2 separate regions of the Homo sapiens genome follow, and region 1 is linked to region 2. The links come from fine-mapping of genetic effects on gene expression. A gene starts in region 2. The other region holds a variant in brackets. All regions are shown on one strand. Distances are from middle to middle. Region 1 has its middle 12 kb from the start of MIR12123. Region 2 holds the start of STMN2 (stathmin 2).

What was found. PIP is the estimated chance that this variant, and not a neighbour inherited with it, causes the effect.
Region 1: its variant is the best candidate, but not a certain one, in a credible set for the expression of STMN2 in fibroblasts (GENCORD, PIP 0.64).

The regions. Positions count from the first base shown.
Region 1 is chr8:79,339,578-79,349,081 of GRCh38, forward strand. No RefSeq gene overlaps it. Among named protein-coding and RNA genes, the nearest start is that of MIR12123, 12 kb to the left of the region's middle. The variant G/A (reference allele first, on the strand shown) is at 5,370.
Region 2 is chr8:79,607,421-79,616,924 of GRCh38, forward strand. STMN2 (stathmin 2) reads left to right here and starts at 3,697. Exons shown (of 5, transcript NM_007029.4): 1 at 3,697-3,794. The coding sequence starts at 3,776. RefSeq lists a silencer at 5,947-6,006.

The DNA.
Region 1 (9,504 bases), 270 kb before region 2:
CAAGCTGTAATACAGAAATGAGTAGTTGCAACAGAAACCATAAGGCCTGCAAAGCCTAAAATATTTATTATCTAGCCCTTATAGCAAAAGTTTGCTGACACGTAATCTAAATTCTCTAGCCCAAATATAAACAGGAGTGCTAAGGAAATCTGACCCCCTTCACCCATAATGTCATCCATAAACAATGTGATCCCTTTTCTGGTAAGTAACCAGAACAGCCTGGAACATCAAAAATATCTATTTATACCTTATCACCAAGGTATCCTTGTTAGGGTTGCCAGGCAACACAGGGATGTCAAATTCAATTTGACTTTCATCGTAAGTATGTCTTATGAAATATATGTTTATCTGAAATCTAGATTAACTAAGTATCCTGTATTTTTCTTTGCTAAATCCAGCAACCCCATCCCTGATGTACACCCCAAGGATATATGTAGATCAAATGAAACACCAGGTCCCATTGTAGTAAGGAAATCAAGACAGCCTATAGATAAACTACTTATAGGCTAGTATTTTGGGACTCCAAGTAAGAGAACACCCAACTCAAAATGAACTAAGCAATGATGAAATGTATTATTTTACAACATGGAGTCTAACAGAGCATAGAGTCAGGGAGATACTCTACAGCAGGGCTCCAGCTTTATGTTTCTGTCATTCTTGTTAGACTGCCCTTGTCTTTGTGCCAGAGTGATCCTCAACACATAGCAAGGTAGCTGCAGAAATTCCTAACATTATAACCAGAGCTGTAACTTCCAGAGTGAGCAGTGAAGCTATATCATATTGTATGTCTTTTGAAGAAGGAGACAACCATTTTCCAGAAGCACAATAGCAAAATTCCATTGAAGTTTCATTGCCTAGAATTGATAAAAGAAATGAGAGTACCATGATTGTTTTGTGCTAATCATTTGAGGGTAGAAGGATATTGAGAAGTAGTCCATGATTACCATTACAGTTCACCTCTTTAGCTAACCAATATCTACAAATATTTTTAGAAATTCTAACATCTACATAAACACATTCATATCTTTCCTGAAGAAAGACCAAAATCTCTTCTGTATCCAGATCCAAGTGTGAATTTCCTGGCTTATATATATTCCTCTCCATCAGGTTCAGATATTGCTCCTGGCAACCTAACGCTAAAAGATGAGGGATCTACCCCTAAAATAACTGGTACAAAAAGGGCAGAAGGGACATGATAATAATATTAAATAAAATTCCCAATTGTAATAAAGGAAGAATGAGAAATTAAACTTGAGAGTCATTAGCCACACTATATATATTCTGTTGGAGAGACAAGATTTGATTCCCCAGGAAAATAATATGGTTTTTTTGTTTGTTTGTTTGTTGTGTGTGTGTGGTGTTGTTTGTTTTTTGAGACAAAGTATCGCCCTATCACTAGGCTGGAGTGATGTGGCGTGATCTCAGTTCACTGCAACCTCCACCTCCCAGTTTCAAACGATCCTCCTGCTTCAGCCTCCCGAGTAGCTGGGACTATAGGTGCGCACCACCACACCCAGCTAATTCTTTTGTATTTTTAGTAGAGACGGGGTTTCACCATGTTGGCCAGGGTGGTCTCGATCTCTTGACCTTGTGATCCACCCGCCTCAGCCTCCCAAAGTGCTAGGATTACAGGCATGAGCCACCACACCCAGCCAATAATATGATTTTTAATGAGCCAACCTGGCAGCATTGTTCTGTTCTGTGCATATAAATCCTTGTACATTTTCCCCTATGATCATACCTGAGGCAAGTGGTGTAAAGACAGACATTGTAGAGAAGAGCTTCAACAAACCGTTTTAAGTAGCTGAAATTTTTATGGCAAGGATACTTCCACCGGAAAATGCAGTTCTCATAAAAATTTATTAGGTTTCAGGTATTTTTGCTTCCAGTCCACAATTAAAGAACTTGATTTACCTGTGATCTTTGAATATGTAAATGCCTGTTTCTGGCTATGCACTTCTGTGTCCTTCCCTTCTCTGTTGGCCCCAGATGAGTAGCCTCCGCCCTGAAGGAATGTGAAATAATTGTCTTTGGTGGAGAGGCACCACAAATAATCTAATCTTTTTCTTAGGATTGGCCTCTTTTCCAAAAAAGAATGACTAATAGGAGGGACTTGAATGAAATCCCACTATGGTAACCTGAAAAACTGCTGTCTCTCTGTTGACATTTAGGTTAACTTTAGCTAGGAATAGAGAATTTGGCTATTCTACCCATCAGTGGACTTGGTTGTAGATCAAAGATACAACTTTTCTTAAAGTCACATAAGTCATGTTTCTCTCTATGTGCATTTGATTTGACCATATTCAGCTAAATCTTTTCTTTTAGGAATGTGCCAGTAGCATTGGGCAACAACACATCATTTCAATATTTCAAACTTTCCCTGTGGCTTTCCTAACACTAGAATCTGTATGGAAAATGATCTAAGTCCCAATGTACAATAGGCAACAGTTTAAAAGAATGTTGGCAAATGCTTCACCCATGGTCACCCACTTCCTAGCCTAGAATAGGTGGATCTTTTAGAGTAGGGAATTCTCTCTTCTCTCCCCTCTACTCCCTCCACTCAGCAAATATACCTTTTAGGGTATGTTCGGTATTCCCTTGAGCACTCTCCATTTTCCCACATTCTGTATCACTTAGGAAGCCTTCAACATAAGTAACAAAATACTATTTCAAATTGGCTTAAATAAGGAAATACATTTATCTCATACAACTAGAATTCCAGACGTAGGGCAATGCCAAGTTTGGATATAAGGACACCAGTTGCCCTTCTCCATCATGTTTTTGGCTGTGCTCTTCTTTAAGGGTGGCAGCTTCATGCTCTGGCTTATTTCAATAGTGCCAGGCATTACTTTAAGACAGTAGAATGTTCTCCAAAATCAGAAAGTAGTTTATCTTTCCTCTGTTTCCTTACTAAAGACAAGCAAGATGCCCAGAAACACTCTAGCAATCTTTCCTTCTTGTTTCAGTGGTCAGGATTTGTCACGCATGTATGCATGAGCCAGTCTCTGGAAAGAAAATGGGAAGGCATTGCTGTTCAGAGTAATTACTTGGGGTAATTATTACAAACCCCAGTCATGTGTCAATGCACTAAAATGTGATGCAGTGACAGAAATGTTCTTTGTAGAGATGAAGCAGTGTTGCTGGTGATGTCTTTCTCCACCCTAGTACTAATTTTCCTACACCTTATTAGTTGCAGAAAAACGTGTTATTGTTTTAGATGACTTTCTGGTCCTTTTAAGCAGAATTTAGAAATAGACAGGAATTAGTATGCACTGATATTGCTATCTTACACATGTCACCTCATTTTTAAAAAAATCTGCAATAATAAATCCAAATTCTGAAGCACATTTTTGGTGGCAAGATAGCTTAATGAAACTTTTTTTAAAATTCACAAAATATGTCTTTTGGGATTTAGGAAAAATAAGGCAATATAAAACTTCAGAAGTAAGTTTCCAACTGTAAAGAAAGAACAAAGATGAAGTCTTAAGGGGCCTTCCAATCTATAAAAGTAATTATTTTCCCTGGTAAGCTATAGTCTCTACTCTGAGACATGTGAGATGTTTTTCTCAAATTTTATTTGGCATTAGCTTCACTTCCACCATGCTTCACATACTGCATATCAGTCCAAGGCATTGAGACCTTTTCTACTTGATGTAGCAGGGGCAGCCCCTCCAGGTTGCAAGGCAGTAGGCCAAATATCTGTCTGAGTTATGAAGACATCTAAAGTGTGGAGGGTTATAAGTGCCCACCTCCAAAGCTGGTAATAAACATCCTTTGATAAAAAGTGCCCATTTCACTCTCGACACATCTAAAGTCCCTTTTTATAAAAAGACAAAAACTCAATGGGCTTGCAACATTGTATGCAATGGGAGGCCCTGATGTGTTTTATGAACAGATTGTTGAAGATGTACCTGAAAATGTAGTCCTCAGGCTCCAGCTTTTTCTCTAAACAGAACCTCTCTCCCTTATGTAAATCATACTTTAATCAAGTGAATTACCCCCCCCCCCCCAGCCATAATGCACACAATACACATTTCTTGAGTGTGTAACATGTGACATGTGCTATTCTGGGCACCAGGAATACAGAGATGAGAAAAAAAGAGGCTGATTGGCTCTCAAAGAACTCACAATCTAGTAAGAAAAACACCAGCCATGCTGACAAATAATTGCATTAGAAGAGGGCCGGTGCTATAACAGAGCTTTGCAGAGACAAACAAGGGACAGAGAAGACAGTGGTCAGGGAAAGCGCCACTCAGATAATAGCTCTACCTTATCTGAGCCTTGAAGGATGATAAAGAGTTGTCCAACCTTTTTGCTTCCCAGTACTTTGATTTTACCTCTATCTTAGGACCTGTATTCTGTATGAATGCACTCCTGGTATGCGTCTGCCTGAACGAGAGTGCAAGCATCTCAAAAGCTGATTACATCGCTTACTCATCAGTTTTACGCCCCGGGCTTCTTACCAAACTAGATTCCTAGAAGGGGTCAATGCATGTCTGTTGTGTCAATGTATGTCAGTCTTGGACCACAACTCTCTTTCTGGTCAATTCAAATTCAACATATTTAATGTAAAAGTAATCTCCTCACATTAAACTCTCTCTCTGATTTGCCAGTTTCTATCAATAATTTAGTTTCTTTCCACGTCATCATGAATCAAAAAATCTCTGAATTATATTTGATTCCTTCATCTACTTTATGCCTACATCTAATTACCTAAGACATCTTATTGATTGTCCTTTCATGGTTTCTATCTTGTGCTTCTGCCATTGTAGAATGCTACTTGAAGTCACTTCTGATGCTATGTTTATTTACATAGATTTCCAATTTCTCCCATTCTTACATACTTTTCCTTGAATTTCATCCGGAAACTCACTGCTATGTTTAAGGACTTCCACTTCTGACTCTATTTGCCATCTACCCAAACAAAACGAAAAGATATTCCTATGAAATACCCTTTTTACAAATCAGATATATTTTCCTCATAGCGAAAGATAAAGGGAGAGGACTAGAAAAAAATTGTCATCCTTTGGTATATTATCTATTGCTGCATAACATTTTACAGCACACTTAACAACTTAAAACAACACACATTAATTATACCACAGCTCCTGTGGATCAGGAGCTTGAGTGGGTTCTCTACTTCAGGGTCTCCCAGACTGCAATCAAGGTTTCAGCTGGGCTAGAGTCTTATTATCTGAGGCTCGGGGTCCTCACCAAGATTATGTGCTTGTGTTTGTTGGAAGAATTCTGTTCTTTGAAATTGGAGGACTGAAGCCCTCAACTCCTGCAGGCTGCCCACAGTTTCTGGCCATGTGTCCTTCTCCATAGGCAGCTCACAACATAAAGGCTTGCTGCTTTCAGGGCAGCAA[G/A]AGAGAAGAGAGAGTCTTCTCGGAGTCATATATGTATACACATTGTATTATAATCATGGGAGTAACATCCCATCACCTTTACCACATAATATAATGTAATCACAACATTTACAGGTCACAGTTCTCACCCACACTCAAGGGGAGGGCATTACATAGAAGCAGGGTAATCAACAGTCTCAATTCATTTTTGATATTTGATTGGAGACATGCCTCACCTCTCCTCTTTCCCTTCTGCTTGCATCTGTGTCACCTGAAAAGAAAGCCTGGGTACTTCTTCCTTTGGAGCCAGTGGAGGTTCACTCCACACAAACCCTGCTGTGTGTGGGAACCTTAACCCCAGCCACACTCTCTGACAACCATAACAACCCCCATTCAAGTCTCCTTTCCCTGTTCTCTTAGGCCATGTTTGGACCAGGATGGGAAGCTAGCCTTACACAAGAAATAAGACCTTCCATGCTGTCTGTGTGTGCGTGCGTGTGTGTGTGTATGTGTGTTTGTGTGTGATCATGTCTTGATATCTGAACCAAATTTGGGGGAGGGAGTAAATCCATCCTTTTTCCACAGAGCATTTAAATCAGACATGAAAATCAAGAGGTGGGCATCATGGGCAGACCCCTACTATTCACCACACCAGGTTTCATGTTGCCACAAGTGGAAATAACACATACTCCATCTGCTAAAAGCCATGTTCAGTCCTTGTGTTATGGGAGGTATAGGAACCAAGTTACCACAAGAATCTGCCTTGCTGCTATGAAAATATGTTGGATAACTATGGATACAAGAAAAACACATTTCTAGGATTTCATATTTTTAGACATTGGTAGGAAAAATCACAAACTTAGTTATATATGCAATTGACAAAGAATAATTTAAAAATGAAAAGGTAATGAGAAAGTTTTAAATATTTAAGTAGCATGAAATATGCGTACAAATGTGTCACAGGTAAAAATAGAAAGTAGGCTAAACGTAGCAAGAAAAACATGATTACATTTGCATCGCTACTATTAAAAAAAAATGCAGTGTTATTGTGTCCCCAGCTGTACCTGGTCATAAGAAAAATACAAATGAGATTTTTTTCATCCCCATCTCCACACAAGGAGTCCAAGTCCTTTAATTTTTATTCTGTGAAACACCAGTATCTAGAACGAGGAACTTTGGATGTCCATTGGCAGTGGGTCACTGGAAAGGAGGTAAAATATATATTGGAGAAGAACCAGTAATCATCATTACAAGCCCCTTCATCGTCAATCCCAGTGCTTGTAAGAGGAAAATTCAGCCCTTTCTTCCACTTTGAGAAATCAAGCCCTGTTTCTCTTTTCTAGGATAGTCCCACCTTCCCACTACCCTTGTCTTTTTAGTCTTTGATTACCAAAAATATGCCTCCATAAATACTTACGTGCGTCTTTCTGACTTGTGCTTGGATATGTATTTTTTGAGTCTTTTTTTCTATTTCAATATTGGCTTGAGAAAGCAAAGACTGCCCTCCCCTACCCCACTACCACTAGAGAGTAGAAAGGAGGAACAAAAACACAGAAAGTACAACAATTAATATTTCCAGCTATAATTCTGCCTCCAAAAATATATTTGTTTTAAGGTAGATACTCTTCCTAAAACAATGATAAAATCTCCACTAGTTAAAAATACTTGAATGAAGCCAAGGAATTTGAATATTCCAGCTGTATGGGAAGCTTATAGTGAGCAGGGGCCATGTTTTATTTTTCTTTACAATTACAGTGTTCATGATGGTGCCAGGCACTACGGCACTTTTTAATTAATTAGAAGAGATGTTCTTATCTATGCTAATATACCAAAATTATTTATCCTTTGATTTGTGAAATAGATTCACTACGCAAACCTTAAAACTGCATTTATTTTCAAAGAAAAAGTTTTAAAAAAAGTCTTCCATTGGTGGTGTGTAGGAAGTGATAGATTAATTTTTATCTTTTGCTGAGTAATTTGTTAACATGGTATGTTGACTGTGACTCTACCACCCAATATTCAGCTTTCCTCTGTTACAAGGTTCTATCAGTTAGGTATTGCTGCAAAACAATCCACCTTAAGACTCAGTTATTAAACGGAAGATTATTTATTATTAAATCTCATGAGTCACAAGGCTTGGTGTTGGTTGATCTTGACTGGTCTTACTCATGTTTCTGCAGGTTAGTGTTACTCCATGTGCCTCTCATCCTCCCTCTAAAAGTTGAAGGGTAGCCCAGGCATATCCTTCTTGTGGTGATGACAGAGTCTGTAAAGAGCAAAGTTTTTCAAACTCAACTCTATTGATGTTTTAGGTTGAATATTTTTTGTTGTAAAGAGTTATTCTATCATAGGATGTTCCACAGGATCTTGGGCCAGTACCCACTGGGTGCCAGTAGAATCCCCCAAGTTGTGGCCAAAAATGCTCCCAGATATCGCCAAATTCCCCTAGGGAAAAAGCTGCCCCTAGTTGAGAACCACTTTTCTAGAGTACAAGCAGAAATACACAAGGTTCATGAGTCCTGGGCTTGCAGCAGGCATACCGTCACTTCTACCTCATTCCGTTGGTTAAAGCAAGTTACATGGAGAACCCAGTCAAGCAAAGCAACAGGGCACCCAACTCATAGTGAAGTTATAACACATGAGAAGGAACACCAATACAGGAAAGTAAGAAGAATTGAGCTATTAAAACAATAAATTTATTTCAACAGTTATGAGTTCAAGAACTTTACTCTGGTATAGACTTTCTTCCAAGACTAAAATAACGTTTTCTATAATTTGGGATCTTATTAGATAGAACAAGCTCCCAGGACTTAGATGCTGTACTACTACTCCTTCCTTTTTGGTCTGATTAGTTAAAATACCTACTAGACATAATAGGCATTGAACAAATAAAATAATATCAACACCTTTATACATTAGGTTTTCTCAATATAATACACAAAGTAATCAAATCGAAAAATTCTTTATGCTGTAAAGTTCTATAAATACTAATAGTAATTTCTTACCTAAAATTGTATATTCACAAATAACCATGTATGTATACAGGGAAACATAGAATAGCTTGCTTCATGGTAGAACAATACAAATGCAGCATGTACACTCTGTGAAGGAGAGCTGTACATGTGTGTTATACAGTAAATGATGCAATTTAAGACCTAAAAATTTCCAATTGAGAAACAAAAACAGGTTGTAAATGTTGGTTAATACTTTTTTTTTTTTTTTGAGACAGAGTCTCACTCTGTAGACAGGGCTGGAGTGCTGTGGCATCATCTCTGCTCCCTGCAACTTCCACCTCCTGGGTTCAAGCAATTCTCCTGCCTCAGCCTCCCAAGTATCTGGGATTACAGGTGCCCGACACTACACCCAGCTAATTTTTTGTATTTTTGGTAGAGACGGGGTTTCACCATGCTGGCCAGGTTGGTCTCAAACTCCTGACCTCATGATTCACCTGCCTCGGCCTCCCAAAGTGCTGTGATTACAGGCGTGAGCCACCGCGCCCAGCCGGTTAATACTTTTTAAAAAGAGAAACAACTATGTTTTAGGGGGAAGAACACACTGAAACTGATTCTATTTATATGCTTAGGTAACCCTGAGCAAAGTCACTTGTTTGAGATCTATAGCATGGAGCCATCAAGTATACTAGGCTGAATCGTATTAAATTTGCCAATATTCAATTGCTTTTGTTTATCTTCAAACATAGCAATTTCATGTGGTTCAAATTAGCAGATAATAATACTAGCCCCACAATGTTGTTCAGAGGGTTAAAAGAGTCAACATTAATTGATTTTTAACCAAACTAATACATAAACAATGGTAAATAATCAGAGAAATATAGAAATCCACGATGTCAATACAGAACAAAGCAAAGGCACAACAGCATCTTCTGGGAAGCATCTGCTCCTTTTTAATAAGTTTGATCTAATTCCAAATTATAAAAATGAGATTGCACAAAAATTAGAGAGTTGCTAACAACAGTTGGAGGTGGTGAGGAAAGGGAAAAAGAAGAAGAAAGAAAATTTCCTTTAAAAATAGAACAAAAAAATAGCACAAAAGAGATTAAAAAGAAATTGGGGCCTGTTATTCTTAAATATTCCTGGGAGTGGGAGGGGATGAATCTATTATTGTTTTCTGACTCTCTAAAGCAATCAAACCTTAT
Region 2 (9,504 bases):
TGATTATTTTAGATGCATCTCTAAATATCTTCAGCTATAACTACTTTATATCCTAAATTTCTAAACATCTAAAAAAATTCAATGGATTTTATCTCTCACATTTCTTTTGTAATCACCTGAGGTCAGATCAAAACAATTAATTTGACCTTAACAATGTTTCTCTTATCTCACTAACTTTTAATAATTACTTTAGGATTCTTTCCCAGGCACTTGATTATGAATAGCAGAAAATCATATGACTGTGTTAGATGGCATCAGCTAATCCTCCAAAGCAACTGCTTCTCTCTGGTTTGGAAAGAAATCAACACCTCAGGCCTCCTCACAGAGATAATACACACTAGGCTATAACCCACAATAATTAAAATTTCTGTTAGCAAGTCTGTGATTTCCACAGCTCCAGCTTACTGCTGGCTGTTAAAGATAACAAAAATTAACAAGGGCCATCTACTATTGTGAGCTCTACTCATTTAGGTTCTTTGGGAATAGGGCAGGATATAAATAAATAAACACTGGTAAACAGCCTAATACCTGCTCCCAACACAAGCTAAGCAAAGGAGGTTAGAAGTGTCAATATGGTCTCACTGGATTCATCCATTTTGAATCATTTTCAACACTGTATTATTTATTATTTCACAAATTGTTTTTAACTGTCTACCACGTGAATCATGAAACCAACCACTAGGAAGGGTATAAAGATATACACTATTCATTCTCTACCTTTCAAAGGTTTAAATGTATTGGAAACACTAAATATAGTCATAGTACTTAAAATTACTATATATCCATGATGGCTTAGACAGTTCATACATGATAACCCTTCAGTCTACCCAAATCCCCACACGACAGATACTGGTTGTCCTTAGTTTATACTGTGCAAATGTAGTACCTATTCTTTGAGTGTCCACCCATTCCCATCAAAACCATTTCCTTCAGGAAAAGCTGATCTCACCTCCAGACCTCTAGGGCCAACTCTATCTATATGGTTAGACGAAACAGCAAATGCACTTTTATTATTAGTGCCAGTTTGGGTTATTTTTTCAAATTTTTGCAACAAAGTGTGATCCACAATACACAAGATCATATTCACTCCCCCAAATTAATATTTTCTTAAAGAGATGGGTGTTATATTTTCCTTCACTTTCTATTTTTCAGACATTAAGGAGAAGCTTGGCTGGCATCACAAAAGCCTGAAACATCATCAAATAAATATTTGTTGAATAAATTAGCTGAACAAATGAATAAGTGAATAACATATTGAATATGAAATAATTTTTCTGTTCATATTTCACCCTTACTTTCCCATGTGAATATGCATGATACCATATTGTAATGATAAAAGAAAACAAAAAACAATTTGATAATGGCACAGCCCTTTGAATTTATTTGTGTTTTCTTAGCTGATTGACAATTTTGCCTACTATCTTTTTATTCTATGGTAAATCATATTGACCTACTCTCTTCCCTGTTTGACATTATTTAAAAATCATTCATAACTGAAGTTAGGTGGCTAACACCTAGAAAATCGGAAATAGAAAAGAGTCACATATGTGACCCTTAGGGCAGTAGAATGAGTGTTTTGTTTTCCTCATAGTCATCAAAAGTGCAATCGATTTCATTCAGCAGCCAACTGCAGTTGTTAAAGAAACTAATGCCATGACTTAGGGCCCTTGTTCTCCAAGGAAGCTGAAGAATGTGTAGAGATGACACACAGCCTGAGGGGAAAGGGTGTGGTGGGGAGAAGAGAAATACTTTGAAAATATTAGTCACACAGACATGCTGAAGATCCTTCACCTCATGAGTGATAACTACTCCAGTGAGAGGTGATTAACTGTTACATTTAAAGTGGGAAATGCCTATATATAGAGAGAAAATGGTTATTTATTTCCAGACCCTGCCAACTTCCATATTGCTCTCTTGCTGTGTCATAGTCACAGACCTGTTCAAAGATAGGAAATATAATTTCTAATCTTCCTGTTCAAGAAATAATTTTATTGATCTCCACTTCATCTTTTATTTTCCCCATGATTCAGCAGGTCAAAACTGTTCCAGTTCCAGTAGCATCCTATCAGTCAGCAAAATGTCCATGAGGTTAAAATGTCTTACAAGTTAATAGGAGGTGAAGAAATTCATTTCAGCACCAAGGAGAGTGCCCTGCTATTTTCAATTGGTTTTATGTATTTGAAACTGTGTATTGTTCCTGAGGATAGAAAAAAAAGTTGAAATGTGATTGGACAGAAAGCTGCTAAAAACCTATTTTAATAAGAAGAAAAAAATACATTCATTTTTCTGAAATTAAAAACTTGCCAGGGTTTCATACCTGTTCATGATTGCAACAATGTGCTCTTCTTTTGGCTTTCAAACGTCGGAATTAGCAATTCTTTGCCTATTTTTCTAATATTAAAACCAGTTTCTGCATGGAATTAGACTGGCTCAATAAAGTTACAGAAGAGTTAAATTAGCAGTAATTAAAAACTTCATGCAGCAACTCCTAAACTTTTTCTCACCATTTTCAGAGCTGTGCACATGGTAAATGCTCAATACATATTTAAGTCAAGTGAAAGAGAACAAATGAATGACTGGCATCCATTAAGTGAGAAGGAGGAACTAATAAATGCCTTGTTTGTAATGAAAGTCATTTTTTGCAACTAGTCTCAAAGATCCTCACATACGACATTGCTCAATCCGAAACTTGAACACAGCCTTCCTGGGCCTACATAAACGTAGTCTCTCTGGATCTCAGAAAAATAATGACCCAGACCACACCTTTCATCTCTTCTAAGTTTTCCATGTAAAGCATTCTCCTTAGAGCCCTGGAAAGGTTACTAAAATTTTGACCCACTTAATCCTACACCTTCAGGGCAACATGGCATTCACCTGTGGTTTCCTTAATGCCCAAACCAGCCAGCCAACCTGTTTTCTGCCGTGTTAACAAATGGACAGGACACAGGCACCAGAGGTTAAACTTTCTTCCTCTTCCCCCATGTCCCCAGGTGGACCATTATTACCATCCCTATTCCCAAGCAACCAGGTAGCCCCTTCCTCTGTGCCAAGGGAAGAAAACACCATGCTTCCCTCTCCTGAGAGACCTTCAAGAGTTTAGAGACGCCTAAGTCCAGCTGTGCTAAAAGATAAAGGACAATAATGCAAGTCTGCTCTGAGCTGCCACCATAGCCAGACATAGGGTAGCCCTGAAAGACTAGAACCAAGGACAGAGCCAAAGGTGAAAGAAAATATGAAAAAGTGAAAACACAGTATTTAAACAGAATTTTCCAACAGCCTGCATATAGTGAGGACTTCTCAAGCTTCTGAATCCTTTTCCATTGAATTGTGCAATGGCACATGTATGAGCAAAGTCAAGCCTCCTGGCTCCCAGGTAGGCACAGCCCAGTTCTTAGCTCCTAGGAAGCTTCAGGGCTTAAAGCTCCACTCTACTTGGACTGTACTATCAGGCCCCCAAAATGGGGGGAGCCGACAGGGAAGGACTGATTTCCATTTCAAACTGCATTCTGGTACTTTGTACTCCAGCACCATTGGCCGATCAATATTTAATGCTTGGAGATTCTGACTCTGCGGGAGTCATGTCAGGGGACCTTGGGAGCCAATCTGCTTGAGCTTCTGAGTGATAATTATTCATGGGCTCCTGCCTCTTGCTCTTTCTCTAGCACGGTCCCACTCTGCAGACTCAGTGCCTTATTCAGTCTTCTCTCTCGCTCTCTCCGCTGCTGTAGCCGGACCCTTTGCCTTCGCCACTGCTCAGCGTCTGCACATCCCTACAATGGCTAAAACAGCAATGGGTAAGGCACTGCGCCTCGTTCTCCGTCGGCTCTACCTGGAGCCCACCTCTCACCTCCTCTCTTGAGCTCTAGAAGCATTCAGAGATATTTTATAAAGAAAAAGATGTTAATGGTAACACAGGACCAGGAAGGACAGGGCAGTTCTGGGGGAGGTGGGAGGGCAGAGAAGAGGTCTATGGAAATCTAAAGCGAAGAATTTCTTTTAAAAGGTAGAAGCGGGTAAGTTGCCCTCCTATGGGTAGAGAATTTATTCTGTTTCCATATTTAAAATTAGGACTCAATCGTGAGGGGAGGAAGCTACCTTAACTGTTTGCCTTAAATGGGCTTAAGGGACATTTTGGAAAGTGCTTTATAACGACCTTTTTTTTTTTTATTTCTTCTCTAGTTTAAGAAGAAAATAGGAAAGGGGTAAAGGGAAGGTGGGAGAAAGGAAAAAGAAAATTGCAAAGTCAAAGCGGTCCCATCCCGCTGTTTGAAAGATGGGTGGAGACGGGGGGAGGGGATGGAGAGAACTGGGCACATTTTACGGTATTGTCTCGTCGAAGAAACCGCTAGTCCTGGGGTGCGGTGCAGGGAGGTAAGACGGCGGGGGACAGGGTGGGGGTAGGACCTCCGCTCCTTTGTTTTAGGGCAAGGGAGGGGAAGGAGAGAGGAAGTCGCGGAGGGCGTGGAGGGCGCGGGTGGGCAGCTGCAGGGGCGGGGAAGCGCGCGGCAGGGAGGGGTGGAGGGACAGCGGCTTCGAAGGCGCTGGGGTGGGGTTTCTTTGTGTGCGGACCAGCGGTCCCGGGGGGAGGCACCTGCAGCGCTGGGCGCACAATGCGGACAGCCCCACCCAGTGCGGAACCGCGCAGCCCCGCCCCCCCGCCCGGTGCTGCATCTTCATTCGAAAGGGGGTCGGGTGGGGAGCGCAGCGTGACACCCAGGAGCCCAACCCTGCGGGGACAGCGGCGCCACGCCCCGCGCTCCCCGCTCCCGACTCCCCGCCGCGGCTTCCAAGAGAGACCTGACCACTGACCCCGCCCTCCCCACGCTGGCCTCATTGTTCTGCTTTTAAGAGAGATGGGAAAAGTGGGTTAACATTTTTCTTTTCGGAAGCAAATTACATAGAGTGTTTAGACATAGACACAGATAAAGGGTTCTTTGAAGACCTTTGATCGTTTGCGGGAAAAGCTTCTAGAACCTAGACATGTGTATGTATAATAATAGAGATGACATGAAATCGTATATAAAGCAAAAGAGGTCAAAGTCTTAAGTTAAGCCACGCGAAATTTCCGTTTTGTGGGTCAGACAGTGCCAAATATCGGCAATTTCATAAGCTCAGAGAGACAAGACAGTGGAGACACAGGATGACCGGAAAAGATTCTGGATTCAGGGCCTTCATCCGCAATTGGTCTTGTGCCTTGAGTGCCCACGGTTCTGGCGCTCAGTGGCCCCGGGGTGAAAAGGCAGGGTGGGGCCTGGGGTCCTGTGGCAGCTGGAAGCACGTGTCCCCCGGGACTTGGTTGCAGGATGCGGAGACAGGGAAAGCTGCCGAAAGGACTCCATCTGCGCGGCTCCGCCCTGCCCTACCCTCCCCGCGGAGCCGGGGAGACCTCAGGCTCCGAGACTGGCGGGGAAGAGGAATATGGGAGGGGCAGTTGAGCTGTATGCAGTCCTGGAACCTCTTTTTTCAGCCCCGCAGTCCACAACGGCCCGAGCACCCCTTGATGTGCGCAGACCCCCGGCGTGGCTCTCAGCCCCAGCACCGAGCCCCTCCCAGCCAAGCGGGTGGCTCTGCAGAAAAGCTGGCTCGAGCCCCGCCCGGCCACACAAAGGCGCGGCCCCACCCAGCCCGGGCGCGAGACCGCAGAGGTGACCCCCTTCCCAGGGATTCAGGGAGGGCTGTCTCTTCTCGCCCACCCACGGTCCGCGGAGCTCGGGGCTTTTTTTCCCCCAGCCCAAGCCCCCCGCCCACCCTCTGTTCTCTATGATTTTCCAGAATGGAGACCCCGCGAGGGGCTTCTCTAAGGGAGACCCTCGCTCCTCCAGCGGGGCGCGGCTCGGCCCCACCCCTCCCAGCTGAGGCCCAGAGCCGCCTACCGCTGGCCGGGTGGGGGCGCACGTGGCGACTGGGTGTGTGGAGCGCAGCCAGCCCTGCAGAGCCCCGCGCCGCGCCCTGCGCTCCCCTCCCCGGAGTTGGGCGCTCGCCCCCGCGGTGCAGCCGGGGAGACCGGTTTCTGCGCAGTGTCCTGAGCTACCCCCGCTTTCCACAATTCGCAGTTCACTCGCACGTCCAGAAAGGTTCTGAGAATGGGTGGTGGGGGCGATCTCGCCTCGCTTTCTGCACCCCTCAGAAAGGTTTCCGCTGCAGGCTAGTGGCTGCAAACTCATCGTCATCATCAGTATTATTATCATTTCAAATCGTTGTTATTATTTAATGATTCAGTAGCCTTGTTTGTTCTCATTTGTTCAAAAGGGACGTGGATTGCTCTTGGTTAAGGATTAACCCTTGTTGCGTTCGCTTTGCTTCCTCCTAATTGCCCTCATCCCTTTCCCCCACAAAAAGGTAAATTTGTCTCCAGTTGTTCATTTTAAGTTATAAAGCAAATATATTTTTGCTTCCTGCCAGGATTATGTATGTTCATGTGGCTAAGATACATGTGCAAGTGCTTGCTAAGAGCAGGGTTTGTGTGCCAACGATTGCTGGAAAATTCTCTGCAAAGAATTGTTTGTGGCTGCAATGGGTGAGAATACACATATATAATTGAGATGATCTTCAACATAAGGTTATATCTATAAATATATAAATATAGTTTATGCACAAAATTTTAAGTTTTTTCCCCTGAAACTGTTCTTCCAACTGCTGATTCTTGATACAGCCTCAATCCTACACAGATACATGGATCGTGAAATGGTAGCCGCCATCCAAATAAAAATCCCACCCCAAATATGACAAACGCAAGCATCCTTTCTGGCCATAATTTAACTGCATTTGCAAATCATGAAAAAAACACTACTTCTGCAGTATTAAAATAATAGATTTTGAAATTAATTCCAATTTCAAAGATAATTAATTATCAGGGCGAGTGCTTTTTTCCTGATTCATTAAACAATTATGTATTCAGCATGATTGTAAGAGGTGCATATAATATTCCCCATTATCTTTTCTAATGAAGTGGGCACCTTCTGAATGGATATATAAGTAACTAGAAATGAAAAGCTGAGGATTTGGTCAGAATTTCAGGATAAAACTGAAAGAAATGGCAGTAGTTTATCAATTAATCTCATGTATTTAGTTTATACCAGGTGAGTAAGCTGAGCCTGCAATAAACACTCTCTGTCCCAGTGTAACACGTCGCAGGTAGCTAGAATGATAGGATAAATTAATAGACCTTGTGGTGTTTGTCTATGCACGTTAAAATTCTCTGAGAGAAAGTATATTTTAAAATGATAATTAAGATTGGACATTTGTGCTATTAAAATCTACAACTTTAGTCAAAATTCACAATGGTTTTTTTTTACAATAATGTGACTTACAGATTTGTAGTAAATTATTCTATTCTAAAAGAGAAATGAGTGTTTTTATTGTTACAGCTATTACCTCATTAATATTTTTAGCAAACTTTTATTTGTTGCATTGAAAGCAGTTTTAATTACTTTGGGTTTTTATTTTTCAAATTACTAATGGATAGATGGTGGAATAAGCATTTAATCATTTGGCACAATATGACTTCCATCAAATAGCTCATTCTCAGTGATTAAAAAATGCTACAAGAGGCTACAATTTACTCAGATTCAGGAAATGTCCTTTCAGAGTGCCATAAGGCTGATTCATATAATAAAATAGTTTTCTTCCCTATAATTTAAGATCAAATAGTTACTTAGTTCTGTGAATACCTAGCAGTAGCTATCAAACAGAATTTTAAAGTTAAATCTGTACAACTAACAATGAAGTGGAGGATGAATCGATACATATTGAATGGAAGACTTTGTCATTGATAAATTCAGGCCATCTTTAGGAAAATTCCGGATTTATCAATCACCATTATTTTTTACTTCAACTGAGTGTGACTGATCACATGCTCAGGCTACCTTGGTAGCTCATTGCTCACAGGAGGCTGAAAAAAGCTGGCCTCCGAGCAGGAGGAAGCTCAGAGCACAAACCTAGGCCTGGGCGTGGCCACTGGGAGCTGCTGATAGCGAACCCCAGCTCACACCAGTTTCTTTTTTGGTCGTGGGAAGAAAAACACATATTATCCTGTTGTCACAAGATCTGTGACCTTATATGAAAAAATGCTAGAATTTTTTCATTAAAAAAGAAAATACTGAACTAGCCAGTGACCCAGATGTTTTCAGAACCTAGACTGGTTCTGTCCATTGGAAAACCTCGGTGTCTGCATTAACTTTTCACCACACTAGAGGGCAATCATGTTCTCTAAAAAAGCAGATGATTGATGTAAACCTAGTTCCAAATATTAACTGTTTAATAAAATCTTTTCTTTTACCAGGAACATTCAAGTGTTTATTCAATAAGCTGATGCCATGCTTTACCCTAGTGGATGAACAGAGCTTGTACAATTTTCAAGGAGACAGGATGAAATGAGTGGTCATAATCTGAAAGTAGATACACGCCCTGGTTAATTATTCCCTGATGGTTTTACTTCTCAGTTTTATTACATTGTTATTATAATACCATTTATGTTACTTCTGAGATTTTGTAGTGGATAAATAGTAGAAAAATGTCAGTAGTAATAGCAAAGTTATTTAGCAGCCGAATATTTTAATGCTTAAAAATAAAGGAATAAATTAAAGAAAATCATTGTTTACTTCTTCATCGATTGAAATGTGCCCCCTGTTCAGAGCACATCTGAATATCAGAGTCTCCACCTGCAGAGAACATGCAGCTTAGCGAGTAAAACAGGCAGGTATGTGATACTGAGGAGGTGTACCAAAAACTGACTGCTGTTATTTTTCCCATCTTCTAAGTCTGTCTTTCTTTTCCATTTAAAGATACCTTTTTAAATCTAATCCAATGTGATTTCAATCTAGTTTTATCAGATTTCAACAATTATTGAGCATCTCCTTGTAGTGGTTTTCTGTTTATTAGAAAATCGATGTTAATTTTAACGAAGTAAGAAGAAATATATAAGTATAAACTAATTTTGGGTATCATCAAAAGTGGATTTTTTAAATATGCATTGATAGAATTATTTTTTGATTACATTTTATGTAATTCTAATCCAGCTATAAAATATTTAATAGTGTCATATTACTGTGTTCCTCAAACTTTGATGTGCATATGAATTACCTTTGATTTTCATTAAAATGCAAATTCTGATTCAATACATCTGGCTTGAGGCAGACATTCTGTCTTCCGAACAAGCTCCCAGATGATGCTGATTCTGACCACTAAACACATCAGTTTTAGGGATATTAACTTGTAATATACAGGTATCCCTCCTGGTAAGCTCTGGTATTATGTCTTAACATTTTTAAATCTATGGTAATCTTTACAAAATATTTTACTTCCGAACTCATATACCTGGGGATTTTATTACTCTGGGAATTATGTGTTCTGCCCCATCACTCTCTCTTAATTGGATTTTTAAAATTATATTCATATTGCAGGACTCGGCAGAAGACCTTCGAGAGAAAGGTAGAAAATAAGAATTTGGCTCTCTGTGTGAGCATGTGTGCGTGTGTGCGAGAGAGAGAGACAGACAGCCTGCCT